Linked DNA regions of Homo sapiens. The protein of the gene in region 2 interacts with the protein of the main gene of each other region in a biochemical or structural test. Each region holds a gene or a part of one and is shown on either strand. Other genes may lie near its edges. The genes, in order: TRIP12, UBE2L3, SMURF1 and WWP1.

Region 1 (7,783 bases), on a different chromosome or scaffold from region 2:
GCAGTCAACCCCTAGTAAGTTCAATGTATGACTATATACTAAGTAGAAAATAAAAGACAGGAATATAAGTTCCTGCCATCTATTTTTTAACAGAAACAACATTAAACAGAGAAATAATGTATGTAACTCTTAATGTAAATTTCTCCCAAATATACATATATAACACACGAAACAAATATATGGAAAGTACCTCTAACTACAAGGTATCTCTCGATGGCTTGTACCAAAGCCAGAGGGTCAATCTTGACAGGTCCACCCTTCCACTGCTTCACATTTGCACAGTCTGGATGCCTTTGTAACTGGCATTTTAATTGATGTGTGTTGAAAAATTTTAAAGCCTGTGATCCTCTGTTGAGAGAAAAGCTCAAGATAATTTGTGAAAAAAAAGTTAGTCTATTATTTTCACATTTAATATACATTAATTCAAATAAAGGCAAGTTAATACAAACTGCATTTTCATAAGACACACTAGTACTAAGCATTTACTTACCAGTTCTGTGAATGGTAAAGCCAATAATTCAAGTTATTTAGAAAAAATTTTTATACGTAAGAAATAAAAGACGGATGTGTATGCATGCATATGAAAACCTTAAGTCAATATTTGATCTCTGTCCCATCATAAATCCATGGGAGCAGAAATACTTCACCCATGAATATTTAATTATTTTTCTGGAACAAAAATTCCTGAACTATTTAAGCACACTCACTTCTGCAATATTTTGCCCATTCCTATTGAATTATATTTTTTAAAAAGAAAAAAAAAACTCTTTATTTCAAAGATTTCAGCTACAATATTACATTAAAAACTAACCTTTAAAATTTACCTTGCTATAATAGTTTTGAACGAAGCGGTTTAATAGCTACTGCAGTTGAAACCTGGTCATGATGTTTAATTGCTCATTTCAGAAAAGCTCTGGCAGGAGTCAGATACAAACTTAAACTGTGATTATCTGTATGATTCCACAAAGCAAGCTTGTCCAACCTGCGGCCCACAGGCCACATGCAGCCCAGATGGCTTTGTATATAGGCCAACATAAATTCGTAAACTTTCTTAAAATACAATGAGTGTTTTTTTTTTTTAAGCTCATCAACTAACATTAGTGTTGGTGTATTTTATGTGGCCCAAGACAATTCATCTTCCAATATAGCCCAGGGAAGCCAAAAGATTGGACCCTCCTGCACATAAAGCACACAAATAGGGATGTGGAGAATATTCCATTTTATGAATATATACATATGCAAACATATTTTATATAAATTTGGACACAAAAAGCTTCATGATTTTCTCAAGCACAGGTCAAAATGCCCCCTTATTTCATGAACTCCTCCAGGAAATCATAACGATCAAAACTGAATACCACACACTACATTAAATTTCAAAGCAGAAAAGAAACCCTAGTCCATGATGTGATTGCTTTATCACTCAAAAATGCATATGGTTTTTAATTCAAACAAAGTTTTTTAAATGTTTTTAAAACGTCAAAATGTGGATTTAAAAACCAAACTAGGCTGAGTGTGGTGGCTCAGAAATCCCAGCACTTTGGGAGGCCAAGGCAGGAGGATCACTTGGGCCCAAGAGTTTGAGACCAGCCTGGGCAACAAAGTGAGACCCCGTCTCTACAAAAAATAAAAAAATTAATGGAACATGGTGGCACATGCCTGTGGCCCCAGCTACGTGGCAGGCTGAGGCAGAAAGATCTCTTCAGCCAGGAGGTCAAGGCTGCAGTGAGCCATGTTCACACTAGTGTAATTTGGCTTGGGCAACAAAGTAAGACTCTGTCCCAAAATAAATAAATAAATAAATAAATAAATAAAAACCAAACAAATTTCCTATTTTCTAGGCCTCCGGTCAAAATATTCCATGAAACTTGTAACATTCCACAACATAGAACAATTCTTTCCTGTAGCACCTCAAGAGTCCTTAAAACTACATTAAAAATATATATATTTATTAAACTAGTAAAACTTCAAACATTTGACCCCATCAAAATACAAAGTTATAGCCACTAATATTACATATAAATCATATCGCTCAAAATGTAAACATTACTCACAGCCACAAAAAATTTTTTATCCCTACTGAAGTTAAACATAAAGTTCTTAAGGAAGTTTTGTATGCTGAAGTGTATCAATTTAAGGAAAACTAAGCCTATTACAAGTTACAAATACAATCACTGGATTATATATTTATAAAGCATCCTGTTTAAGGCATATGGTATAATTTTAAAGATAAGAAAGCATTTGATTCATTCTTTAGAGTGCTTAATTTCTTTCATCATTACAGCTGAATGTTTTCTGGGCCAATCAAGACTTTACCAGACCTCTTGCCATCTTACTTCAGTGAAATTAAGTACCAAATTCCAGTGGCAAGGGTATAGCCAGGCAATGGTCCTTACCTGCCTCCTGTCCCATTTCCACTAGGGAAATCATGTACTTTGACTGGAAATTGTTCCATCTGGCTGAGGCAGTTGTTCATCTTGTGAACTAATGCCAACAAAGGTGCATTACCCACTGGTTCCACTCTTCCAATGGGCTCTTCTCCAGGAAGCTAAAGTTATAAATAAACAAACAGGTTAAACAAAGCCTTTTCAAAACAAAAGTCTCCTCAAAGAGAAGATTTAATAAGCAGCTTTATAAAAGAGAATAATTTGTCTATTCATCTTTATCTTTTATGGCAGATTTGGTTTGAACGATGTTACCACGTCAATTATTTCAATAAAGACAACTGTTTTGTACAGCCCACAATCCTGTATTCACAATCTCTACATCCAAAGGCTCTGAAAACACAAGTCACTTGGTGGCAAAATCTGATCCAAACAGACATAAGGCTATTTACAGTCTTTATTTATCTGATTTTAGTAAGAATATTCATGTTATGCTATAAAAATATTTAATGCATATAATATACAGTGCTATTCAGAAACTGCTGGGAATTTTAATGTACTACACACTGTAGGACCTTTGAAACCGACCAAACTCCAGGGGTTTCAGAAAAGAGATTGCACATAATCTTAAGTATGCTGTAAAACTATACATAATACTGTCACGCTTCTAATGAATCTCCAATAAATACTAACTTTGCTTTAGGTTGACTCACAAGTTAAAATACAAGCAATGCTCAAATGCCTCTGAGGACTGCAAGCGCATGGTGAAATAGTGTTAATACATAGGAGAGCTATGCTAAGCCCTATTACACAGATAATAGGGAACGTTTCCAAGTGATGCCTTCTCTTTAAGCCACTGTAAAACAAGGAGAATGCTGTCAACAGCATCCAAGGATTACCCTCTTGCTCTGGCCCACTTAAGAGTGAAGGAAGGGGAGCCACTCTGTGGCTTTGTAATCCACATTATAAACGGTGACATAAATGGTCATTAAGCGCCCTTGATTGGAACTGTTACAACTGTATTTTATGTACAAAACAAGAAAATATAACTCCTCTATCTTATTATAGATGTCTGTTTCACTAAAAGGAACTAATACAAACTTCAATACATTTAAAAACAAATATTGCAAGTAAAATACATTCACAGGTGAGAGACTACTATTAATGGCTCATCCTGCAAGCAAAAAAGACTCAAGATACTTCAATCATAGAAATAGTGACATGGGCTTTGTTAAATCCCCATTTCATTGTTTTACTATTTACTTTGATATACAGAAGTTGAAGGATTCCAACTATGTGAAAACCTAGAAGTTTTCCCTCAATGTCTTGACCAAGACCTGCTGGAAATTATTACTGAGATGAAAATATATGCATTAGTGAGCACTGATTCTTAAAAGATACACAGGCATTATTAGATAACTTACTGGAGAAGAAAAAAATACATGAAGAAATCGCTTTAATCTGATCTCTCTGCTCACAGCATCCTTTTCACTTTTAGATGTCAAATAAAGCAACAGCTGCTTCACAAATCCACTATGTTGGATTTCAAATGATGAAACATCTGACTCTGAGACTATGCTACGGATTTCTACAAGGCACTCAGCTCCACCATCCACCTGAAAGAGTTAGGAAAAGTATTTCTATATTGATTTAAGCAGCACTTAAAAAATACACAACTCACATATCCTCAAAAGGAAATGAATATATTCTCAACGCCCTTAAAAAAGAGGGCAGGGGAGTGGTACAGTCTTAGTAAATCCTTGGAAATTATGATTTTAAACACACACACACACACACTAAATATTTCATGAGGAAAACCAGGAATCCATAATAACATAAGAAGAAAATCTTCATATTCAACCAATGTAGTTTTCTTTAAAAAAGAGTATTTTAAAAGATGAGAACAGAAAACTGAAGAATAAGGGGCTATAACACCAGAATGGAAAGATGAATCAAGAATACAAGGTGTGGCTTTAAATTAATACATTTAAGGTCTCAGCAAAATGAACAATTTCTTGGAAAACATACTACCAAAACTGCTCAAGGTACATCAAAAACATCAAAATAAATAAATAAATAAAAATAAAAATAAGAACAAAAACTGAGAACCAGATGAAACGTAAAACACTTATTAGTAAACCTCTAGCCTCTCCTGCCACTCTGAGACCCCATGTGAAGAGAGGGGCTAAGGAAGGCCTATCATCTATACCTATAGTTGAGGATGACTTAGAAAACAGATGTGCTTGTGAGGACATTTCTGAAGTTTCTTCATTTGTCAAGAATGATGAGATGTGAAGGAAAGAAAGTCAAAGATGAGGTTTCTAGTACATTTAATACAGACTGATGAATCCTGATAGTCAAGGGATAAGTAAAAGAAATGCCAGCACCAAGGGTGTATATAAGGTAAAAGTCGATGTAGGATAGCTAAATCCATAGGAAGCTAGAGAGTCATGAAGGAAAAGAGTAGCAGGAGATGCTGGGAAGAGACTGAAAAAGACCAGCAAAATGCACTGGACACAGCACCTGGAGGTTGAGTTGTTCGGTTGCAGCACAAAGTCTCTGAAGGACATTCAATGCAGGGTTGCTTCCATCCATATTCTCAGAACTGAAATAACGTTCTACAAATTTATGTGCCTGCTCCTTAATCCAACCTTTAATTTTTTCTCTACAAGAAACAAAAAGGAGATATTAAAGTCCCAGTGTATGTAGAAAGGATATAACTTCTGATCAAGGCAAATAGCTGCTACATTTAAAATTCATCCTGGTCTATGCTTACAGTTTAAAAACTCCAGATTCCATAACCAAATTAACTTTCACTTTGAAAATGGGCTACGATGTACCACCTGGAGAACTGTTTAAAAACTTAAAATACACTGCAGGTCATTACATGAATTGTAAACAAAGTGTAATAATTTTTTGGAACCCTGCAATATAACACTTTCCTAAGTGTTCCCTTTACTTCCTAAAGTACATACATATCTGCATTATCCTTAACTTGTGTTTCCTGGAGAGCTGAAGTAAAGATTTACAGACCAGAAACATGCGCCTATTAAGGATGTAATAAGCTATGGCAAATAAGACCCGGCTGCTTAAATTACAAATGCTGATGGCTTCAGAAATCCATTCACTTAATTATTTTTATACACTGAAATTAAGAAAAACAACCAACAAAACCAAAGAGAGCATGTTTATTTTCTCAATGACATTTGGTCTTTTAAAATTTCTTATCTGCAGAGGGAAGTAATCATGTTGGTATGCTACATGCAGAACCCAAAAATAAAACAAGTCCCAAGGACTTAAAAAAAAAAAAAAAGGCTCTCCCCTAAAATCCTGAAGTTCCATTGTAATGGGTAGAGAAATTTTATCATAAAAGATGTGAAGAATGTGGACAGAAAATGTCAGCTTTTCCTTGTCTGGAACAAAACTGAGGAAGAGGTTCCCCAAGGAATACAATGTGGTTTTGAACGTATAAGACTTTCAGCTAGGTATGCTGGAAGGAGTTTCAAAGCACATGACTGGAACTTAGGACAAAGCCAGATGCAGGGTTCATAAACTGAGAAACTACCTAATTCTTGAACTATGCTTTTAAGAACAAATTAAAGTGCTGTGTCTATGTATCGTCTCCACACAATAAACGTACTGGCTGAAATAATGTTTAAGTTTTTCTGATATGGGAATAGAAGAAACATAAAACTCCCCCCACTTCACCTATTATTGGAGATGGTATCCTTTGAGGCAGCCCTGGCAAGGCCACTACCTCCCGCAGTCCGTGCTGGCTCAATGTTGTTGCTGTTGGACTGTGTACTTAACCTTCCCCATGTTTTTGGATTCAAGCTTGCCAGGAAAGAAGATTTAGGTGACTGAGTAGTGGTGGGGCTTTTAGCTATGAAAAGAAAAAAGAACTACAGTTAAGTCATTTTAGTTTAAGTGATGAAAAACAACTGATTTTTAAGATTCACAGTCTTAACAGATTAATTAACTGAAAGAACTAAGAACACTTAGTCCTCAGGAAACTTAGGCATACTTCAAGAGCTACTGGCAGTTTTAATAAAGTACATTTCTGCACCTGCTACCACCCTCCCCTTTACCTCCCCATAGTTTCATCAAAGGGGTTACCTTGATTGTCTACTTTGTCATCATCTCTTGGAGGTGAGTACTTTGGCCTTCTTGGCCCTCGTTTTGGCAGTCGTTTTCTCTTTAGAACATCACTTAATCGACTGTCCATGGGAAAATATGAGATAAGTTTAGCAATTACCACTGTTTTATATCTTCACTCACTGAAAAAGCAAACTAAAATGGCAGAAACAGGGAGTAATAAAATACTGTCAGGCCGGGCGCGGTGGCTCACGCCTGTAATCCCAGCACTTTGGGAGGCCGAGGCGGGCAGATCACGAGGTCAGGAGATCAAGACCATCCTGGCTAACATGGTGAAACCCCATCTCTACTAAAAATACAAAAATTAGCCGGGCGTGGTGGCGGGCGCCTGTAGTCTCAGCTACTGAGGAGGCTGAGGCAGGAGAATGGCGTGAACCCGGGAGGCGGAGCTTGCAGTGAGCCGAGATAGCGCCACTGCACTCCAGCCTGGGAGATAGTGAGACTCCATCTCAAAAAAAAAAAAAATACTGTCATAACAAGGTATGTTCTTGTTTAGTGATTATTTAATGCCAATTCTGTGCCAGTCATGTTCTAGAGGTGTGCAGACACAGCAAATGATTATTCAGAAAATAACTAGCTGTTTAACTATACTGAACTATGAAACATAAAGCCAGATAAGATGACTGATCAATTTTCTATGTGTTCCACTTTAAATAGTAGTATATAAGTACATAAAGCAAATATGCAACACAAAGGAGCAAAATAAAAATAAACGGGTAATCACCAACCTGAAAAAGAATGTTAAATCCACATAACACACTTTTTCCATAACCAAAATGGCCGTGAGTAAAATATACATGACCCTTAGTGTTCATGTTGTCAAAATACTCATCTGCCTCTAACATACTACCCAAAGTAATTTCATAGTGTGACAATGGCAATAACATACTAAATAAATGCATTTATGAACATTTTAGTTGGTTTTTTTAAACCTATATACAAATCTAGTGAGTAGTATGAGTAATTTATTCTGAATTAGAATCATTTGCAAAATTAAACACCTGTAGCCTGTTCTAACGACAGTAGAAATAGTTTGTAACAGCAATAAATTTTTAGAATAACAAAACTAAATAAGATGAAAAGGCTGAAAAATGTTGTGGTTTAGTTGGTCTGTGGCCCAAATAAAACTGGAAAAATCTGAAAAAAAATTGGAAAATTTCCAACACCTGACATTTCTATGGAATATACTTAATAATGTGCTCAAATGTGCTTGACAATCAGGAAAAATGAACTTTCAAAGGATG
Region 2 (7,823 bases):
TCCTGCCTAACACAGTGAAACCCCATCTCTACTGAAAATACCAAAAAAAAAAAAAAAATTAGCCAGGCGTGGTGGCGGGCTCCCGTAGTCCCAGCCACTCAGGAGGCTGAGGCGGGAGAATGGCGTGAACCCGGGAGGCGGAGGTTGCAGTGAGCCGAGATCGCGCCACAGCACTCCAGCCTGGGCGAAGAGCGAGACTCCGTCTCAAAAAAAAAAAATTAATACTTTTTTTTTTTTTTTGAGACGGACTCTCACTCTGTCACCCAGGTTGGAGTGCAATGGTGTGATCTCGGCTCACTGCAACCTCCCCCTCCCGGGTTCGAGCGATTCTCCCGCCTCAGCCTCCCAAGTAGCTGGGACTATAGGCACCCTCCACCACACCCAGCTAATTTTTGTATTTTTAGTAGAGACGGCATTTCACTATGTTGGCCAGGCTGGTCTCGAACTCCTGACCTTGTGATCCGCCTGCCTCAGCTTCCCAAAGTGCTGGGATTACAGGTGTGAGCCACTGCACCTGGACTATTTATTTTTGTAGATATGGTAGTCTTTCTATGTTGCCCAGGCCGGTCTTGAACTCCGGGCCTCAAGTAATTCTCCCGCTTCAGCCTCCTAAAGTGCTGGGATTATAGGTGTGAGACTGTACGCAGCCAAAAAAGTCTACTTCTTTTTCTTTTCTTTCTTTCTTTTTTTTTTTTTTTTGAGACATGGTCTCACTCTTTCACACAGGCTTGAGTGCAGTGGCACGATCACGGCTCACTGTAGTGTCACTCTCCCGGGCCCAAGTGATCCTCTCACTTCAGCCTCCCAAGTAGCTAGAATTACTTGGCCATCACACCTGGCTAATTCTTTTTTTATTTTTTGTTGAGACGGGGTCTCCCTATGTTGCCCAGGATGGTCTCAAACTCTTTGGCTCAAGCAATCCTCCTGCCTTGGCCTCCCCAAGTGCTAGGATTACAGGCATGAGTCACCACAAGGTTACTTCTGATGGGAGGCTTGGGCAGATGGCACAGAAAGGATAGGTCTGTATGAACAAGGTTTGGCTGAGTGGAGGGGATCGGGTATGACTAGAAGCCAGGCCTGCTAGAGGGAGCAATGAAGGTTTTAGAGCAGGAGAGGGACCCCAAAGGCCAGGCAGCCCTTCCACTGGGACTGGGTACATTTCCTGAGTGCTTGTTTAGTAAAAGCACTTTGTAGCTCAGCGGCTTGACTCCCCACCTGCAAAGTGCAAGGGAGTCATCTTGCAGGCAGCGGTGAGGATGTAAGAAGATGCCATGGCAAAGGCTAGTCCTTGACATTGAGCCTCTGATGATCCCACTCTGTATTCTCAGCTTAGCACATCCGGGTCAAAGGTATGAACTGTGCTTCCTCAACTGGCTTGGAATTTCTCAGCGTAAGCGTCCCCTTCCTCCGTAATTCTCCACAGAGGAAAGCAGTTCCCAATACAGCTATGTTTTTTATTTGTCCTGGGCCCAGTAAGGGCAGGTTCTGTGCTCACAGTAGACCCCAGAGTCAGTCCCAGACTTCTAAGTCCCACCATGACCCTAGAGATCTGATGGGGTCCCTCATGCATACGCTGAATGTGTATTGAACACTCAGTGTACTGGCCTTGGGGGAGGTAAAAGGCAGGCAGAATCGCTGATCACATGAGGCTTGTCATCTAGTTTCTCCCTCCTTTACCGTGTCAAGCCTGGGCTCCCAAGATGAGTGTGAGGCCAGCCTTATTCCAGGATATATATATCTATATATATATATTTTTGAGACTGAGTCTTGCTGTGTTACCCAGGCTGGAGTGCTGTGGAGCTATCTCCACTCACGGCAAGCTCCGCCTCCCGGGTTCACGCCATTCTCCTGCCTCAGCCTCCCGAGTAGCTGGGAATACAGGCGCCCGCCACCACGCCCGGCTAATTTTTTGTATTTTTAGTAGAGATGGGGTTTCACCGTGTTAGCCAGGATGGTCTCAATCTCCTGACCTCGTGATCCACCCACCTCGGCTTCCCAAAGTGCTGGGATTACAGGTGTGAACCACCACACCCGGCCCCAGGATATATTATTTCCAGTTCCCTTTCCTTCTCTCCTTTCAGGAGAAACCCACTGTTCTTAGAAATGGAGAAAAATGTCCAGGCCCAGTGACTCACACCTATAATCCCAGCACTTTGGGAGGCCAAGGTGGGTGGATCACTTGAGGTCAGGAGTTCAAGACCATCCTGGCCAAAAATGCTAAAACCCTGTCTCTACTAAAAATACAAAAATTAGCTGGGCATGGTGGCAGGTGCCTGTAATCTATGCTACTCAGGAGGCTGAGGCAGGAGAATCACTTGAACCCGGGAGGCAGAGGTTACAGTGAGCTGAGATCATGCCATTTTGCACTCCACCCTGGGTGACAGAGTGAAACTGTGTCTCAAAAAAAAAAAAAAAAAAAAAAAAAAAAAAGAGAAAAACTCCTTAAGAAGGTCTGAGTATATTCTGAAGCTATGTTCTTCTCTCTGCATTGCTACCTGAGGTCCAAACCACTGTCACCTCTTTGCCTGAATGATTGCAACCGGTTTCCAAGTGGCCCCTGCTCCCCTTCTTATCCTCTTACCCACCTCCATTCCCCATTTTCCAATCAGAGTACTCCTTTTTTTTTTTTTTTTTTTAAGATGGAGTCTCACTCTGTCGCCCAGGCTGGAGTGCAGTGGCGCGGACTTGGCTCACTGCAACCTCTGCCTCCCAGGTTCAAGCGATTCTCCTGCCTCAGCATCCAGAGTAGCTGGGATTACGTTCGCCCACCACCACACCTGGCTAATTTTTGTATTTTTAGTAGAGACGGAGTTTCACCATGTTGGTCAGGGTGGTCTCAAACTCCTGACCTCAAGTGATCCACCCCCCTCAGCCTCCCAAAGTGCTGGGATTACAGGCATCAGCCACTGTGCCAAGCCCCAAAGTACTCTTTAAAACATGCGTCTCAGCCCAGGTGTGGTGGCTCATGCCTGTAATCCCACCACTTTGGGAGGTTGCGGCGGGAGGACTGCTTGAGCTCAGGAGTTTGAGACCAGCCTGGGCAAGACAGTGAGACTTCATTTCTACAAAAAATAAAAAAAAACTTAGGAGGGTGTGGTGGAACGTGCCTGTAGTCCCAGTTAATTGGGAGGCGAAGCAGGAGGATCCCTTGAGCCTAGGAGGTCGAGGCGGCAGTGAGCTGTTATCGTGCCACTGTACTCCAGCCTGGGTGACAGATCAAGACTCTGTCTCAAAAAAAAAAAAAATCATCTGACCATGGAGTCAATACTCATATCTATCAAAGACCTCTCACAGCACATGGAATAGAAACCAACTCCTCCCCTTTCTACAAGACCCTCCATGGTCTGTCCCCTGCCTCCCTCCCACCCTATAATCCTTTTACTCCATTCTGGACACTGAGACAGCCTCATGGTCTTCGCCAGTGCTGCTTCCTCTGCTTGAAACATTCTCCTCCAGTCCTCCCAGCTGTTCCTTCCCATTTTCCAGGTCCCAGCATTGGCTTTGGAGCCAGCAGCCCACCTGTGACAGGAGCCTGGCTCTGCTCCTAGCTGGCCGTGTGACCTTGGGCAAGTCACTGGCTTCTTCTGTGCTTCTGTTTATTGTGAAATGAGGATGTTAATGCTAACGTATCCCAGAGGATGGTTTCAAGGGTTAAAGAAAATAAAGCACTAGAGAGAGGTCTGGCACTTAGTAGGGCCATTTCCTCAATTTGGCTTCCTTGACCTCTCAAAGTATGTCCCCACAGTCACTTTCCTATCACCCAGTTTTCTTCACAGAGCTTGGCAGTGTGAAGTAACCTTGGTTATTCAACTTTTTTTTTTTCCCCCAAGACGGAGTCTTCCTCTGTCACCCAGGCTGGAGTGTAGTGGCAAGATCTCGGCTCACTGCAACCTCTGCCTCCCGGGTTCAAGCGATTCTCCTGCCTCAGCCTCCTGAGTAGCAGAGATTACAGGCGCCCGCCACCACGCCTGGCTAATTTTTTGTATTTTTAGTAGAGACCGAGTTTCACCACGTTGGCCAGGCTGGTCTCGAACTCGTGACCGCGTGATCCACCCGCCTCGGTCTCCCAAAGTGCTGGGATTACAGGCGTGAGCCCCCGCGCCTGGTCAACTATTTTATGCAATCAGTATTTATTATGCTCCTACTATGTGCCAGGCACTGGTTGTAACTGCCATCTGATTGGACGATCCGTAAACGCTGAGGCCCAGTCTGTGCGGTTCACTTGCGTTCCTCCACGCGCCCCCCAGCACAGTGGGAAGCACACAGTAGGTGCTCCGCTCTGCTCCTGTGCCCCGCCCCGCGGCCCCTCCCCCGCTCCAGGAAGTGCGGGGGCTCCAGCCGCCCGGCCGGCCGCGATGCATTCTGGGGAAGGAGCAGCACCAAATCCAAGATGGCGGCCAGCAGGAGGCTGATGAAGGTAAAAGCCATTCTCTGGCAGCGGCCGGGCGTGGGGCGGCGTCCTAGGCTCCGGATCCCCGAGGCAGGCGGCGGCTTCTCAGGGCGCTGCCGTCTGGCTTCCTGCCCTACACGGCCTCGTCGGTTCCCTGGGCCGCGCGCAGGCTCAAGGTGCTAACGGGGCTGGCCTAGGCCGCAGCCTGGGCGGGAGCGCAAGGCCGCGCTGGGAGCCGCTGTCGGCCCCTCAGCCCGGCCCGGGGCGTTCACGCCACTCTCCGCCCGGAGCTTGGCCGCGTCCCCCTGTCGCGGAGGCCGCGGTCCGATCTGAGGGCGTCGTTAATGTGAGAGCCCGGTTGGGAGGCTCCAAACCGGGCGCCTTCGGGGAAGGCCCGAGCGCCGGAGCCCCTGCCCGGAGCCCGCGCCGCGGAACCGCCCCGCCCTGGGCCGCAGCGCGCCGGGCTTGCAGCTCCGCTTGGCCCGGCCGCAGCTCGGGAGTCTGGGAGGTTCGGGCTAGGAAAGAGAGAAGGAGGCCAGGCGGCCAAAGTTAGGTCAGTTTGTTGGTGGGTCGTTTGGAATTGCGCTGGGTCCTAGCAAACTGTCGCCTTGTGACTGCAGAGTCACACAGCGGGTAAGTTCCAACTCCAGGAAGGCCTGAGGTCGGCCCCGATCGCGGCGCGGTTCTGCTTCCCTCTCCTCCACTCAGTCATCCCGATCTCCCCTCCCTGATAAAGTGCCATTTTTGGGGGGATAACGGTTGATTTCAGTCGTTCGAATCAAAACGGGCCAAAGTTTATAATAATAATTTGGTACTTTGGATCTTGAATGCAGCAGGGTGCTTTCTCGCTAATTGGCACCTTTTGGTGAGGAACACATGCTAAATTGGCTTAGTACTTTTGCCAGTGGATTTGCCAAGGTCCTCTGTAGCCCACCCCGCCAGCATCTGTGAGTCGGCGGCTGGGTAGTGCTGCCGGCCTGCAACGGGCCGGAAATTAAAAAAAGGCCCAGGAGCCAGTTTCCTGAGGGGAGATAAAGAGCTGGGGTTCGTTCTAGGCGGAGCAGTGCTTGGTAGAGCTAGACATTGAACTTGGAGCCACAGTCTCTGAGCATTCCCTCCGTCCCTGGGAACGTTTCCTTTCTTTTGTTCCCTAAGGGCTAGAGAGGACATTAACTTTATAAAACTGGAGTGGAAGTGGGCACAAAAGAACAGTCAGAGGACTTCAGACCTCTCCTCATCTCTTAAGCTAGTGACACCACCATTCACCAGATAAGGGGTCGGTTAATGGCTTTCTTTCCTACCCTACTCCCAGGTGCAGTCGTCCATTAACCCTTGTGGATTTAAATTTAGAAAGATTTCTGGAGTGCAGGCCGGGCGCGATGGCTCACGCCTGTAATCCCAGCACTCCTGGGAGGCCGAGGCGGGCGGATCACTTGAGGTCAGGAGTTCAAGACCAGCCTGGCCAACATGGTGAAACCCTGTCTCTACTAAAAATATAAAAATTAGCTGGGCGTGGTTGCATTTGCCTGTAATCTCAGCTACCCGGGAGGCTGAGGTGGAAGAGTCGCTTGAACCCGGCAGGTGGAGGTTGCAGTGAGCCAAGTTTGCACCACTGCACTCCAGCCAGGGCGACAGAGTGAGACTCCATGTCAAAAAAAAAAAAAAAAAAAAGATTTCTGGAGTGCATGCCTTGCTTTCTAATGTTACTGAAATTACTCTGAATCTATATCCTCATCTCTCAGGTGCCCTCCCAAGTGCTCTCCTCCCCAGACTACCCCTGACGGACACCAGAGTTCTTTTAAAGCAGATAACTCAATTCTTTCACTCCTGTTAAAAACCTCTATGGTGTTATTGTCCTCAGCAGTTAATCCTAACCTCTTACTTGGCATGCAGGACCTTTCTGAGACTGGCTGAAAGCAATCCCTTGAGCCTCACCTCCTGCCCTTTGGTTTCCCACAGTTCTTGCACCTAATCACAGTAGCTACTATTTTTCCAGCTTTTACTTCGTGCTTTATATGCATGATCATGTTTAATCCTTCCTGTGAAGTAGACATTGTGATTTCCATTTTGTCGATGAGAAAAGATTCTTTGGCTTGCCCAGGGTTACCTAGCTAGGGAGAGTGAGTTGTGATCGAATTCGGTTCTTTCTCCAAAGCAAAGTCTCCTGCTCTTACTTGCTGTCTGATGTCCCTTTGCACGTGTTGTTTGCTCTACCCAAGAAAAGCTGCCTTCTCCTCACTTCTCCCTTCCAGAGAAGTCCCAGGTTCAACTCCAGTGCCAACTACTCTGTGAGCCCGTGCTCCCACATCCCCCTTCAGAATGTGTTGTTTCCTCCTTTGTGTGACCACAGCGCTTTCTTTATATTTCTCTTTGAGCACTTGTCACAATCTCTTTGTGTTACAGACTTGTCTTTCCTGTACTGGGTTCTGAGATCCCGAAGGGCAGGGATCTTGACCTAATTCATCCTGGTAGCCCCCTAGCCTATCCCAGTTGACCCAGTTTGGAATCTCCAGGCTCTCAGGGGTCTAAGAGGGGACTTATTATGGTTTTAAAATTATTACTCTGTTTCTAAAAAAAAACAGACCTTGGAAAAAAATTGTAACATTAACTGAGTATTTATTAAGTATTAGGTTATTTACGTAAGTCATCTTTTCAACACTCAAAGTTAGTGTATTGTCATTTGTATTTTTTATAAATGAGGACATTGTGAGGTTAAGTAGGTTAAGGGAGTTACCTAAGGTAGAATTGTGGAACGTGGTGGGGAGAGAGAAGACGCTGACTCTTCCTGGCTCCAGGATCCAAATTCCATGCCTCTTGTCAGGCTGTCTTTCTTACTCAAAGGCTGCATGGAGCGGTGTGTTGTTTCTTAAGTTGAGGATGGAAAGGCTTTCAGTTCACTAGGGGAACACCAGTTATGTAATGCTGATCATTGGCTGTGAGAATCAATGTTTAAGACTGTTTTTTTTTTCTTTTAAAGGAAGAAAAATTATTGATACAAGTTGATAAACAGTCTTTTCAGTACATAGGGTGGTAATAAAGTGATTTTCGTTGGTGAAAAGTTGGGGCTTAGTGCATGGAACAGTGCCTTAGGCATAGCAATCTAGCAAATGTTGAATGATCAAATTAATTACATCTTAAAGAACTTTAGATTTCTGTTAAAAATGTTTTCTAGGACATTCCACAGCAAAGATTTCTTTGTAACAATGGACTGTCTGCAGATAGTGTAAAACACATTATTAAAAGTAGAGTGATTTACATATACTACACTGAGAAGTTATTTTAGGCAAAGTGAGTATGATAAAGTCTTTTATTTCAAAAGCACTTGCCAGGAGGCTTAACCTCTTTTAGAAGCCTTTTTAGGAATTACAGTGTTAATAAAACATTAAGTACATTTTAATTTGCAAGCAGCTAATTTAGCATTGTTGGCTACAAC
Region 3 (8,162 bases), on a different chromosome or scaffold from region 2:
CAGCCATGATGATGGCACTGCCTTCCAGCCTGGGTGACAGAGTGAGACCCTCTCTTTTAAAGAATAAATAAGGAGTTATTAATCTAGGGACTACAGGCCCTTACAGGATTCATAAATTGGTTTCAGGTGATCATAAACCCACTGAAATCAGAGGCAAATTTTGATGTGTATTTGCACATATGAATTTTTCTGGAGGAAGGAGTCCAGAGTTTCCATCAGATTGTCAAAGAGGTTTGGGACTCAGAAACTGGTTAAGAACTACTGCAGTCAGATCCAAAGACAGATTTGCCCACTGGAAAATATTTCAAATGCCCAATAACACTGACTCAGGGAACTGATACATTTCTGGGAAATAAAAGCAGTCAAATGCTACCTAGAAAGCAGGGTCAAAACTGCTCTGTGTAAAGCCATTGCAAAGAGGACACTTGAGGAGGCTCACCGAGTTCCATCTCTGTTTCAGCAGAATTGTTTGACATTTTGCATCTGTTTGTTCCAGATAGCTTTAGAAGATTGTATTTTCGAGGAATGTGATACATGATGAAAGGAAGGGAAGATGATATATCTTAAGTTCAATATGATAGCGTCTGATGATTTTTAAGTGGGCAAATGCTTTTTGTTATTTTTAATCAACTTTTTTTTTTTTTTTAAAGACATGGGGTCTCATTCTGTGATCTAGACTGGAATGCAGTGGCACAATCATAGCTCACTGCAGCCTTGCGCTACTGGGCTCAAGCCATCCTCCCACCTTGGCCTCCTGAGTAGCTGGGACTACAGACATGCACCACCTCACCCAGATAATTTTTAAATTTTTTGTAGAGATGGGGGTCTCGTTATGTTGCCCAGGCTTTTATCAAAAAAAAAAATTTTTTTTTTTGAGATAGAGTCTTGCTCTTATCGCCCAGGCTGGAGGGCAGCAGTGCAATCTCAGCTCACTGCAACCTCCGCCTCCCGGGTTCAAGAGATTCTCCTGCCTCAGCCTCCCGAGTAGCTGGGATTACAGGCGCCTGCCACTACACCCAGGTTATTTTTGTATTTTTAGTAGAGATGGGGTTTCACCATGTTGGCCAGGATGGTCTCAAACTCCTGACCTCAGGTGATCCACCCGCCTTGGTCTCCCAAAATGCTGGGATTACAGGCGTGAGCCACTGTGCCCGGACTTTTATCAACTTTTAATGGAGTAAGTTGTATGGATAGAGTATACAAGCAGCTCCATAAGTACATTTTTATTGAAAATGGTGCTGGAAAATGCCATTCACGTTCATGCCTTTGTGCAGCTGTTCCTTCTATCTATAATGCCCTTCCTCACCACTTTGCCCAGCAAACTTGAACGTTGGCTTTAAGCTCTAGATTAAGATCATCTGTGACTCGAGATGTCTCCATTTCTCTTCTTATGTAGAATTGTTCTGTCATCTATGTTCTAGCCTGCTATACACATCCCCATCACTGTATCATTGTCAGTTGCTCATGTCTGTTTCATCCAGTTAACTGACCCTCTGGAATGCTGAAGCTGTAATAGATTTATTTTGTATTCCTTGTTCCTAGCCACATAGCAGGTGGCCAATGTTTGCCGAATGAGTAAAACATGAGCTTCCAGGTAGGAAGGTCCCCTTTGTGCAGCTGTGGTGAAAGATACTATTGGGTATATCTAGCAATTTCAAATGGTCCCAGTTTATGACGGTTTGACTTACGATTTTTTGATGTTATGGTAGGAAAGCGACACACATTCAGTAGAAACCACACTTCAAATTTCGAATTTTGATTCAAAATTCTTTATAATAACTTTATCGTAAAATAGGCTTTGTGTTAGATGATTTTGCCCCACCGTATGGTAATGAAAGTGTTCTGTGCACATTTAAGGTAGGCTGGGCTAAGCTATAATGGCTGGTAGCTTAGGTGTAGTAAATGCATTTTCCGTTGTTTTTTTTTTTTTTTTTTTTTTTTTTTTTTTTTTTTTAAGACACAGTCTCGCTCTATTGCCCAGGCTGAAGTGCAGTGGCACAATCTCGCCTCACTGCAACCTCTGCCTCCCGAGTTTAAGTGATTTTTGTGCCTCAGCCTCCCGAGTAGCTGGGACTACAGGTGCACACCACCACACCCAGTTAACTTTTGTATTTTTAGTTGACAGGGTTTCACCATGTTAGCCAGGCTGGTCTCGAACTCCTGCTCGCAGGTAATCCCCCCACCTCAGCCTCCTAAAGTGCTGGGATTACAGGCATGAACCACCATGCCCGGCCTCCGCAAATGCATTTTTGACATATTTTCAACATATTATGGGTTTATCAGAATGTAACCCCATTGTACATCAAGGAGCATCTGTACTTGTTAATGAATGAACAAAATGCCTTTCAGAAACCTCCAGAAGCAACCTCCTGACTCAAAGATTAAGGAAACAGTCAAGCCAACGAAGAACCAGCCGTCGGGGCGGGGAGAAAAACAACAAAATTAAGCAATGAAAGGTTTCCAGGTCAGGAACACCTGGGGATAAGAACAGGAGCCTGCACCCAGGTAAGCAGAGAGTGATGTCTGGTTTTGTTTAGAGAGGAGACTCTTTGAATAGGGGGGAAATACTAACGGGATTGGCAGAAGAATGGGGATTACTTGGGAGCATTAGAGACTGGATGGATTAATTCAGACCCAGGCATTCACTCTCTGTGACAATCATCTACAAATGGAAACAGCTGGATTGTGGCTCTACTGCTATTGCTTAAACATTGCTTATATTCTTGGGTCTTTCTTGAGGATAACTGAAAGAGCCGCAAGGTGCCATAGAAATGACCTAGGACCATCCTTTTATTTGACAGATGTGATGCCTTGAATCCTGCCCAGGAGAGACTCTGCTTTCACTAGGGTCATCCGAGGCAGGCAGGCAGGCAGGCAGGCGGGCAGGCAGGCAGGTATGTCTAGGCGCTCTAGGTAGAAGGCTCTGTTCCGAAGACTGTGACCTTAGGACAGGCACAAGGCTGCAGGGGATGGTAGCAATGGCCCAGAGCCTACTTTCCTTGGGACACACACACACACACACACACACACAGTATTAAAAGAATTTGTTCAAGTTGATTGATGAAGAATCAAATAAAAATAAAAAAGAACTTGTACATGAAAATGGGTAGTGGGGTCTGGGAGCGGTGGCTTAGGCCTGAAATCCCAGCACTTTGGGAGGCTGAAGCGGGCAGATCACCTGAGCTCAGAAGTTTGAGACCAGCCTGGCCAAAACAGCGAAACCCCATCTCTACCAAAAATACAAAAATTAGCTGGGTGTGGTGGCTAACGCCTGTAATCCCAGCTATACAGGAGGCTGAGACACGAGAATCACTTGAACCTGGGAGGTGGAGGTTGCAGTGAGCCAAGACCGTGCCACTGCACTCCAGCCTGGGTGACAGAGTGAGACCCTGTCTCAAAAAACAACAACAACAACAACAAGGTAGTGGGTAAAAAACAAGTTTGATAAACCTAGTTTTCCCTCTTTCTAATAATACCAGTTTATTTCTATAACATGCTAACAGAGAGGAGTTTGTTTGCTGGAGAAAGCGCATAATGAGCTTTTTCTGTGTGTGTGTGTGTGTGTGTGTGTGTGTGTTTTGAGACAGTGTCTAGCTCTGTCACCCAGGCTGTAGTGCAGTGGCCTGATCATAGCTCACTGCAGCCATGAACTCTGGGGCTCAAGTGATCCTCCCACCTCAGCCTCCCAGTACCTGGGACTACAGGCGCGCACCACCATGCCCAGCTAATTTTTGTATTTTTTGTAGAGATGGAGTCTCCCTATGTTGCCCAGGCTGGCCTCAAAGTCCTGGGCTCAAGTGATCCGCCCGCCTCGGCCTCCCAAAGTGCTGGGATTACAGGCTACAGCCACCGTACCCAGCCATGAGCTTTTGGTTCTAACCTGCAACCCCGGGAGAAGGGGAAATTTAGCAGAAGACATGGGAACACAAACCACAATGCCACTTTCTTGTTTGGTAAAATTGTATGCAGAATGGATAATAACAAACATCCGCCTCTCAACTTTATCCCTCCCTCTCATCTCGTTTTCCTTGTCCGTATATGGCACTTCTGCGATTCTGGCAACTTTGTTATGGGTCAGTGGAGCACACCCGTTGCACAGAACACACCTAAGGGCTTTGTCTCTTTGAGAAGTCCCTCCCTTGAACTTGCACGATCGAAAGCTCTTAACTGAAAAAAACTGGTATTGCACGCCTGTGTGCAAGGAGCTTGGTGTGGACACAGCCCACGGTTTCATGCAAACCACTCTTCAGTCACTCAGGAGCCCAGAGCCTCGCAGAGACAGGGGTCAAGACAGAGGGCGACCGCGCGCTGGGTCCCGGGGCCAGCTCTGCTCTCCCTTCCCGGGCTCGGGGCCAGACCCTCCCACCCACCGACCACAGGAAGGGTGAAGACCCCAACCCGCGGGATCCGGGCCCCGCGCGCCCGAGGCAGGCGTGCGGGCGACGTAGCAGCGCACCCCGCCCCGCCCCAGCGTACGTGGCGGGGGCGCGCACGCACGCAGGCGCGGGGGCGCGCAGGGCCGGGCCGGCACGGCGGCGGGCGCGCGCGCGGCTCGGAGAGGCGGCGGCAGCGGCGGAAGCGGCGAGGGCGGCGGGCGTCCGGCTCTGAGGTGGTGGAGGCGGCGGAGGCGGCGGCGGAGGCGGCGGCGGCTCGGGACTGGGCTCGGCTGGAAGCAGCGAGGGTCAGAGCGCCGCAGCAAGCGCCGATCTCCCGGCTCGACCATCCGCCTGCCGCCCGGACGCCTGGGCCGCGGAGTTTGTGTCCCGGCTCGGACCCCGGCGCCCAGCCCGGAGCCGTAACCTTGAGGCGGCGGCGGCGGGGCCGGGCCGGGCCGGGCTGGGGGGCGGTGGCGCTGGATCCGCGGCTGCCCGATCGTTGGCGGGAGATGTCGAACCCCGGGACACGCAGGAACGGCTCCAGCATCAAGATCCGTCTGACAGGTACGGCCGGCGGGAGGCCCACCCGCGCCCCGGCGCCCCCTCGCCCGCCCCGGAATTCCCCGCAGGGCGCCCTTGGAAGCGGCCCTCCCCCACGCCGGCCGTTGTCCCAGGACCTCGTCACCCCCTTCGGCGTGCGCCCCTCGCTTCTCCCTCCTGGCCCCGCCCCCTCGCCGTTGCCCGGCCCCGCCCCCTGGCCGCTCGCGCCCCCTCGGTCTCGCGTTCCCTCCCGTTCCCCCGCACCTGCCCCCTCGCATCTCCGTCCTGGCCCCGCCCCTCTCATTTCCATTCATGGCCACGCCCCTTGCATCTCCTTCCCTGGCCCCGCCCCTCGCTTCTCTTTTCCTGGCCCCGCCCCTTGCATCTCCTTCCAGGCCCTTTCCCCTCACCTCTCCCCGGCTCGGCCCCTTGCCTCTCGCTTCCCTTCCTCTCCCTAGCACCTGACCCCTCGCTTCTCCCCCCAGGCCCCGCCCCCTTGCCTTTCACCTCCATCCCTGTGGTCCTTTCTCTTCCCCACCTTTCCTCCCCAAACCTGACCCCGCCCATCTCTCTGGCCCCACCCCCTCGCTCCTCTCTGCTCCCGCCTCCTAACTTTCTGTCCCCGCCCCCTCGCTTCTCCCTGCGTCCAGCTCCCTCGCTTCTCTCTGGTCCCGCCTCCTCACTTCTTTCCTAGCCTGGGCCCTCACTTCTTCCTGGTCCCGCCTCCTCACTTCTTTCCTAGCATCGGCCCTCACTTCTTCCTGGTCCCGCCCCCTTGCTTCTCTCCTTTTTTTCTCCTCCGCCGTTTTTACCCCCTCCCTCCTTCTCCTCGCTTCCCATCCTCTCCGCCCACCTGCCCCCTCGCTTTTCCCTCCTGGCCTTGCCTCTGTTCCCCTGGTCCCATCCCTCACTTCTCACCACTTTCCCATCATCTCTCTTGCTTTCCTGTTTTCCCTCCCACCTGCTCCCTCCCCTCATCCTCCTGGTCTTTCCCACCACTTCCAAGCTATTTTGCTACCTCCCCTTCCACTTGCCCCCTTGCTTCTCCCCTCCTGCCCCCACCCACCCTCTTCTCACTCCCCCATCCTCTTTCGTTTCTCCCTCACCCCCCCACACCGTCCTCCTCCCTTCTTCCCCTAGCCCCGCCCCTCACTTTCAAGCCCCGCCCTCATTCCTGCCTAGCCCCGCCCCCTCGCTGCTGTCTGGCGAGGCCTCCACCCTTTCTTTCCTTCAGCCTGAAATTCCTCAATCCTATCTTGTAGCTGCTCCCAGTCCTGCTCTCTTCACTTCCCCCTGGTCCAGCCCTCTTCAGTCTCAGTCTGGGCCACTTCCTGTCTCTTAGGCCAGACCGCTAGCTACTTTTAACTCTGCTTCTTCAATTTTTACCTTTTCTGCATTTTGTTTCACCATCACCCCCACACTCAGCAACCCAGAGCGCCGTGAGGCTCTGATCCCTACTCCCACACTCACTGGAGGCTTTGGAAGCTGCCCACACGCAGGCTCCTTGATTCATTTTGTCTTCAATGAAAAGTCCGTGTTTCCTGGGTGGCTCTGTAGTGCCACCTTCAAGGGTGAGCGCAACGCTCTGCCGCGGGCCTGCGACTTGGTGGCGCGGATGTGATGCCAACCTGTTTCCCCCCGGGCTCCAGAGGTTCTGGACCAGGCTGCATCCTCGTCTTCCCTTTCTCACTCTCATTGGTACTACTCTCTTTCCAGTTTCAATTCATCCCTAAAGCAGGATGGCCGTGTTGCAAATGCGGCTCTGCTCCGGGACTTTCCAAACTCGAATATTTCCAGCTCTGGAAGGAAACTAAAAAGTTCATTCTAATCCCCGTCAGGGATTTTCCCCTGGATTTTTCTGTTCAGTGGCTCAGTCGGGTGAGAACTCCAAAGTCCTGGTTTGGTCAGGTCCTTTCAAAGAGAGAATGAGCGTTTTGAACACTTTATGGCAGATGCGCAGCCATAAAGTCATCGGTAAAATCCATGCAAACAATAGGTAATTTTTTTAAACTAAAATTTACTTTGAGAGCCCATAGTTGTTGCATGGCCCAACTTTTGTCTTAAGAGAAGGTTTTGTTTTTTTGTATAAAGATATCAAATAATGATTTGGACCCAAACCCAGACCCTGGTTTTGTAACGTAGGAGGTAGTTTCCTCTGGGATCTTTGCTTCTGGGGAAATACATTTCTTTATGCCAGGGCTGATAGGAAACGCTTCTCACTTTGTAGATACAATGTAGATACATTTTTATTTATGTGGTAAGATAAAAGTAACATTTTTGAGATTGTAATACTTGTAAAGCTTTTAACTTGGTTCTGATTTACAGCTCAGTCTGTAATTGACATCAGATTGGTTTCAGTTATCTTGTTAAAAGCGAAAGCAACTGATTTTGTGTTAGAAATATGATGAATGTTTTAGAAGGAATAGGTTTTAATTGAAATGTTTATGTCTGGTGTATGTATATTAATCAATCCTATTTGCCAAGCCTGAGCCTTGAAAGGGAGGACTTGGTTTCTCCTCCTACCAAATTATTTTTGGATTTAGGAATTTAGATTATCGAAGCAAGAATGCTTTGAGGAATTTTTGGATGACATTTGATAGGGAAGGATCAGGTGATGAGTGTTGTTTCTGAAACACCTTTTCCCTTTCCCTTTCCCTTTCAGTAGATGTTATGAATGGTTTGAGAGGATTTGTGAGTGTGATCATCCTTACAATAGGATTGCGGTTTAGCGGTAATGGTACACATGCAATGCCAGTACGTGGAACCTTAGTTTACCTCGAAAGGTTTGAACTAGAAGTTTGTTGACGGTGGAATAGGTTTTAGTCTCATCTTTCTGGTTAAGGGAAGTTTGAATTCTCACTTCTGGGATGTTGAGAAGCAATCTTTCAAAATTTGAATACTTTTGTTACAGGTTTCAGAGTTTATTTCCATGTTTGTTATTTGGAAAAAAAAAAAAGACTGTTAAAAATGAGGGATATTTCAACCAGTCAATGAATAGACACAGAGCGAAATTCAGTGCAAAGATAGTGAAGATGGCCTGGCGCCGTGGCTCACGCCTGAATCCCAGCACTTTGGGAGGCTGAGGCAGATCACGAGGTCAGGAGGTTGAGACCATCCTGGCTAACACGGTGAAACCCCGTCTCTACTAGAAATACAAAAAATTAGCTGGGCGCGGTGGCTCACACCTGTAATCTCAGCACTTTGGGAGGCTGAGGTGGGGCGGATCACGAGGTCAGGAGATTGAGA
Region 4 (5,240 bases), on a different chromosome or scaffold from region 2:
GTGGGGCTATAGATTAAATGTACAACTAGATATCAAAATCCATATGTTTTCTATTACACCAGATATTTAAAAGATTTCCAAAACTAAAACAAAATCACTCTTTCCACTATTTTTTTTGGAAGTAGTTGGGTTTTTCCCATTAAAATGTTATGTTTATTTTCATATCAAAGTGAATTAATATTTTTTAAACTTCTGTTTTAACTTCTAATCCAGTAAATATCAGTAGCTATAATTCATATAAATAAAAGCTCTTTGCAGTTGGAAATCCATTTTTTTTTTCCCAAGATAGAGTCTTGCTGTGTTACCTATGTTAGAGTGCAGTGGCACAGACACAACTCACTGCAGCCTCAACCTCCTGGGTTCAAGCAATCCTCCTGCCATAGCCTCCTCAGTAGCTGGGACCACCAGTGCACGCCACTATGCCTGGCTAATTTTTTAATTTTTTGTAGGGACAAAGTTTTGCTGTGTTGTCCCAGGTGGGTCTTAAACTCTGGGCTCAAGCTGTCCTGCCTTGGCCTCTGAAAGTGCTGGGATTATAGGCATGAGCCACTGCTCCCAGCCAAGGTTGACAGTATTTTTAAGAGTGAAAAGGAGTCCTGTGACCAAAATTTGAAGACCTCTGCCTTCAATAAAAGTGATAGATCCATATGTATACACACATGCGCGCGCGTGTGTGTGTGTATTGAGAGAGAGATTTTTGAGTCAAAGGGAGAATTAAAATAGATTTCAAATTTTGTGAAAGGAAAGTAATTACCACCCACTGATTTCTGTTTTCTCAAAGTATAAGGAGAAGTCACTGGCTAAGAGTGAAGAAAGGAAAAACTTTTGAGAGAAAGAAGGAATTGGGAGAATTGTTAGAGAATAGGCAAGTATTCATTAGAGGAACACGGCTAAGATTGCTAGGCAAAATTGGATTGCTCACTTGGATTAGAGCATGAAACAAGTTGACAGCAAAGAGCATAAGCTTCCTTTCCCCACCACAGCCCCCTCCCCACCCATAGCAACTCGAAAGCAGCAAAAGTTTTTGAAGAGTGGCATAAACTGGTATGTCTTTTTAGCAAAAAGTAAAAAAGAAACAAAACAAATAGACCCAAAGAATTCTCTGATGGTCCAGGTAAGAGATGATGGGGAAGCATATACAAAGGGATGTAGTGGCAGTAGAAATGATGAGGAGGAGCCTGGGCAACATGACAAAACTTCGTCTCTACAAAAAAAAATACAAAAGTTAGCTGGCCATGGTGGCATGCGCCTGTACTCCCAGCCACTCCAGGGACTGAGGTGGGAGGAGGGAGGATTGCTTCAGCCTGGGAGGTCGAGGTCGCAGTGAGCCGAGACAGTAGCCTAGGCGACACAGCCAGACCCTGTCTCCAAATAAATAATCAGGAGAAAAAATGGAATATTTGGTAGATAGAATGACAGAATTTGGCAAAGGCTATATGTGAAAGATGTAAGAGAACAGAAAGTGACTGGTTGTCTTGTATAGGAAGTATTAAAAAATAATTTTTTTTTCTGACCTTGTTATCATACTCTACCTTGAAGTATAAAGGGGAGGGCAGTATATGGTCTGCTTAGTTGCTGCTATTAATATCTTTAACTTCATTTAAAATACAAAGAATACAGTCTTAGAACAGCACTGTTTTATTTAGATGCCTTGTTTCAAAGGCTCTTTCCTGACTCTGACATGGGAGGGTCAAGGGCACATGGAAAGTGGTGACAGTGGTAAGAAGGCACCTGGATAATCTCTAGAAACCTTCCACATGGGAAAATGAAGGTACAGAAGGGTTCTGACTTACTCAGGGCTATCTCACTAGTCACTGCTACTGTAGGGACCAAAACCCTGAACACCCGAATCCTAATCTAGCTACTCAGTGCTGTACCTCACAAAACGAAATGTTATTCCACCTTTGTAAACTGAAAAATAATAGTTATTTTAAGCATTTTTTAGTATTTTAAAATTTTTATCAGTTAATACCAGAATGGAATTGAGTATGGCAAGATTGAAAAAGTGTCATTTTAGAAGAGTTTATATATGTGGTTAGATTATTTGAAAAGACAAAGAAACATATATATTTGTTAATTGACTGTCTCTACCCCAGAATGTAAATTCCATGAAGACAGGGATTTTAGTTTTCTTCACTGTATCACTAGCTTATCAGTTATATAAAAAATTCTCGGTAAATGACTGATGAATGAGTGACTGAGTGGATGAAAGAAATGGACTCTTATCCTAAGAGAAGTTAAGAGGACTCATGACACATGTAACAGGAATAGTAAAAAGAAAATGGATTTTTTTTTTTTTTTAAATTTGTCTTTATCCATATTGCTACACTTATTATTTGTAATTCCATTTTCCTCTTGGAGATGTTAAAATAGTTTTTATATGTAAGTCTTAAATTTAGATTACTCTAAATACTTCTGGCAAAATTTTAACATATATAGTATACATATATCCATTCAGCATTTCTATGTGCTTTGAAAAGTATTCTATTAGATTTTTTTCATTTTATTGAAAACATCTGATTTTGTTTTTGTTTCTGTTCAGTTTTAATCGCTTGGATCTACCACCATATAAGAGTTATGAACAACTAAAGGAAAAACTTCTTTTTGCAATAGAAGAGACAGAGGGATTTGGACAAGAATGAATGTGGCTTCTTATTTTGGAGGAGCTCTTGCATTTAAATACCCCAGCCAAGAAAAATTGCACAGATAGTGTATATAAGCTGTTCATTCTGTACAGTGAATTTTCCGAACCTCTCAAAGTATGTTTTCCGTTCTTCCACAGAAATATGCAAAACAGTTCATCCTTTTCTACTTTATTTATTGTTCCCTTGAAATGACTGACCAGGAAAAAGATCATCCTTAAATTTTGAAGCAAGTGAGAGACTTTATTAAAAATACATATATATCTATATAAACATATATGATAGTGGCTCTAGTTTTATAGAGCTCCAAGTGTATTAAACATGACAGCCATTCATTCATAAAGATCTGGATTTGCTTTACCTTGTTAATATTATCTAGGGGAAAAAGTGCAAATTGCTCCATGTTCTTCTCTCCCTTATGTAACATCTCCTGAGGGTGTTTAGTTGCATGGCTGTTCAGAAAGGTATTAAGGGCTTAGGCCAAATCTTACTTTGAGTATGTTAAAAAAAAAAAAATGCTGCTGGCTTTTCTGAAGACAGGTGCTTGAACTTGTCAGTTTGTTTTAAATAAATACAATAGTTGAAAATTTTTCTCTGTTACATCAGTAATATTGTTAAAGTAATGGATAGAACCATAACTTACACATGAAAGTCATATACTAGATCCAATACTATTTAGTTTATTATCGAAATTGGAAGGATTCATTGAGCAGCATAGAAGTTTGTTTACATGTTACTTTGAGATGCTAGGTATTTGTGGAATTAAAAAGAATCAGGCTCTTTTGTACTTTGTTTTTAAATCTGTGATGCTTTTCAAATTTAATTCATAATAAATTGATGCAATTTCATACTTAGGAACATACAAAAGGTAATGTAAACTCTGCCACTTTTTTGTGTTCAAAATTTTGGTTTTTATGAAGCCAGATGGATTGAAGAGTTACATAAGCATTTGAATGCTCTAATATAAGGCTAATGATTTTCTGTTAGTGTTTGAATATCTTCATTCCTCTCAAATTCATAACAGTTCTATTTAACTGAATTAAATAACCATATGAAAAATCTTTTGGGTCTCCCCCTTTTTACACAGATAATTATTTTTGTCATAACACTTTTTAATTGTTTTTCATCATAGGGGCCTTTGCTGAACTACAAAAATGTGTAACAAATTAAAATCTGATGTGAATGATATTAATGCTACTTTTAGCAAACTGGGCTTCCTAATACAAAATTTTAAATTTCCATTTGTATCATGCTTTTAATATGCACTGTAAATTTCATTAACTTAAACATTTTTTAATAGCCATGGAACTGACTTCTTAAAATCTGTTGCCTATAAATATTTCACTGCTAAGTACATACAGAAAAACAGTAATTATTGTTTTGCCAAAATTTTATTTTTCTACATATTGAGAGTGTGTTCTCCATTTTATTCAGAATTCATAGTAAAGACGAAAGAAAGGCAGAGATCTGCTTGGTTGAATAGACTCCTTTTCCAAATCCTTATTATGAACACTCTGGTAATTTTCAAGCCTAAAGAATTAAAAAAAAAATTCTAATGTATGTGACAGGTTATGTGATAGAGGGAAACTGGCCTTCAAAAAGGACTGCGTATACCATAAAAGAGTTAAGTATTAGAATTACAAATGGTACCACTGCTGTATAAATTTTGCCATGACAGAAGTTATTGAATATCATTCATTGTAGGTATGATTTAGCAGATTTGACTGAAGAAGGCAGCTTTCCAGTTCGTTTTCAGGGTGCTGGTCTCCCTCAAGTAAGAAATTACGATGCACTAGGTGAGGCTACACAGAACCCTACAAGAGACAAAACCAGCTTTGTTTTGGAGAATTCATCAGGGTCTTCCACTTTTCATACCCAATTATAGATATCCAAGACCTACAGGCAGAGCTCTTGATTTATCTACCCAGTAGCAGTCAGAAAAACTGTAGAAATATGGTCCCCCACTCACCTTCTCCCCTTCTTCCCTTCCCATTCCTGTTCTGTGCTGGACTAACCGAAAGAAATTAGGAGTGCAAGACTCTCTGTGCCCAAAACACAGTTCATGAGGAAACAGACAAGAGGGAGGCTCAGAGACAGGTTTATATTGCTACTTCATTTTGGTGACTCCCCCACCCCCACCACCAGTAAATGGCCCAGGGAATAGCTCACAGGCCCAATACAATTCTGTCTGTTAGATCAGTTAAGCAACACAATTCTATCTGTTAGATCAGTTTAGTTGTTTGTCTTCCAGGGAAAGCAGCTTACCAGTGTTTTTTTTGTTTGTTTGTCCCGCCCCCCCCATGTACTTCCCAAGTAGTTGAAAATGAAAAGGTTAACAAAACCTTTTCCCCTGATGACTTCTGTTAACTACCTAGCTCTTCCTACCCTGACAACTAAATAGGATGGTATGTGTCAACTGTATTTATTGCCATGCAGCTTTGCTTTTGGTAAATATGACCCTGACTGGTAAGTTGCATCTGGACTGGGAAATCTCCAGATACACGACAGAAAGCCACAGCTTTGGGCATACCTGAGTGGAAAACTCTTGTAACTGTATGTCCTTTAAGGAGGACCGTGAGCTGTCACCTGGGGAGATAC

What was found.
Region 1: the proteins of UBE2L3 (region 2) and TRIP12 form a complex in vitro, tested with the Homo sapiens proteins (6 studies listed by BioGRID).
Region 3: the proteins of UBE2L3 (region 2) and SMURF1 form a complex in vitro, tested with the Homo sapiens proteins (12 studies listed by BioGRID, with this or other methods).
Region 4: the proteins of UBE2L3 (region 2) and WWP1 form a complex in vitro, tested with the Homo sapiens proteins (9 studies listed by BioGRID, with this or other methods).

The regions. Positions count from the first base shown.
Region 1 is NC_000002.12:229,792,783-229,800,565, forward strand, and holds part of TRIP12 (E3 ubiquitin-protein ligase TRIP12), read right to left. Parts: intron 6,602-7,783; coding exon 6,501-6,601; intron 6,268-6,500; coding exon 6,093-6,267; intron 5,050-6,092; coding exon 4,908-5,049; intron 4,001-4,907; coding exon 3,809-4,000; intron 2,549-3,808; coding exon 2,397-2,548; intron 364-2,396; coding exon 191-363; intron 1-190. UniProt on the Homo sapiens protein: E3 ubiquitin-protein ligase involved in ubiquitin fusion degradation (UFD) pathway and regulation of DNA repair.
Region 2 is NC_000022.11:21,563,355-21,571,177, forward strand, and holds the start of UBE2L3 (ubiquitin-conjugating enzyme E2 L3), read left to right. Parts: upstream 1-4,359; 5' UTR 4,360-4,390; coding exon 4,391-4,417; exon of another isoform or gene 4,418-5,023; intron 5,024-7,823. UniProt on the Homo sapiens protein: Ubiquitin-conjugating enzyme E2 that specifically acts with HECT-type and RBR family E3 ubiquitin-protein ligases.
Region 3 is NC_000007.14:99,140,504-99,148,665, reverse strand, and holds the start of SMURF1 (E3 ubiquitin-protein ligase SMURF1), read left to right. Parts: upstream 1-4,557; 5' UTR 4,558-4,885; coding exon 4,886-4,940; intron 4,941-8,162. UniProt on the Homo sapiens protein: E3 ubiquitin-protein ligase that acts as a negative regulator of BMP signaling pathway. Mediates ubiquitination and degradation of SMAD1 and SMAD5, 2 receptor-regulated SMADs specific for the BMP pathway.
Region 4 is NC_000008.11:86,464,252-86,469,491, forward strand, and holds the end of WWP1 (NEDD4-like E3 ubiquitin-protein ligase WWP1), read left to right. Parts: intron 1-2,542; coding exon 2,543-2,642; 3' UTR 2,643-4,252; downstream 4,253-5,240. Other genes in the region: RMDN1 (regulator of microtubule dynamics protein 1), read right to left, coding at 4,425-4,456. UniProt on the Homo sapiens protein: E3 ubiquitin-protein ligase which accepts ubiquitin from an E2 ubiquitin-conjugating enzyme in the form of a thioester and then directly transfers the ubiquitin to targeted substrates.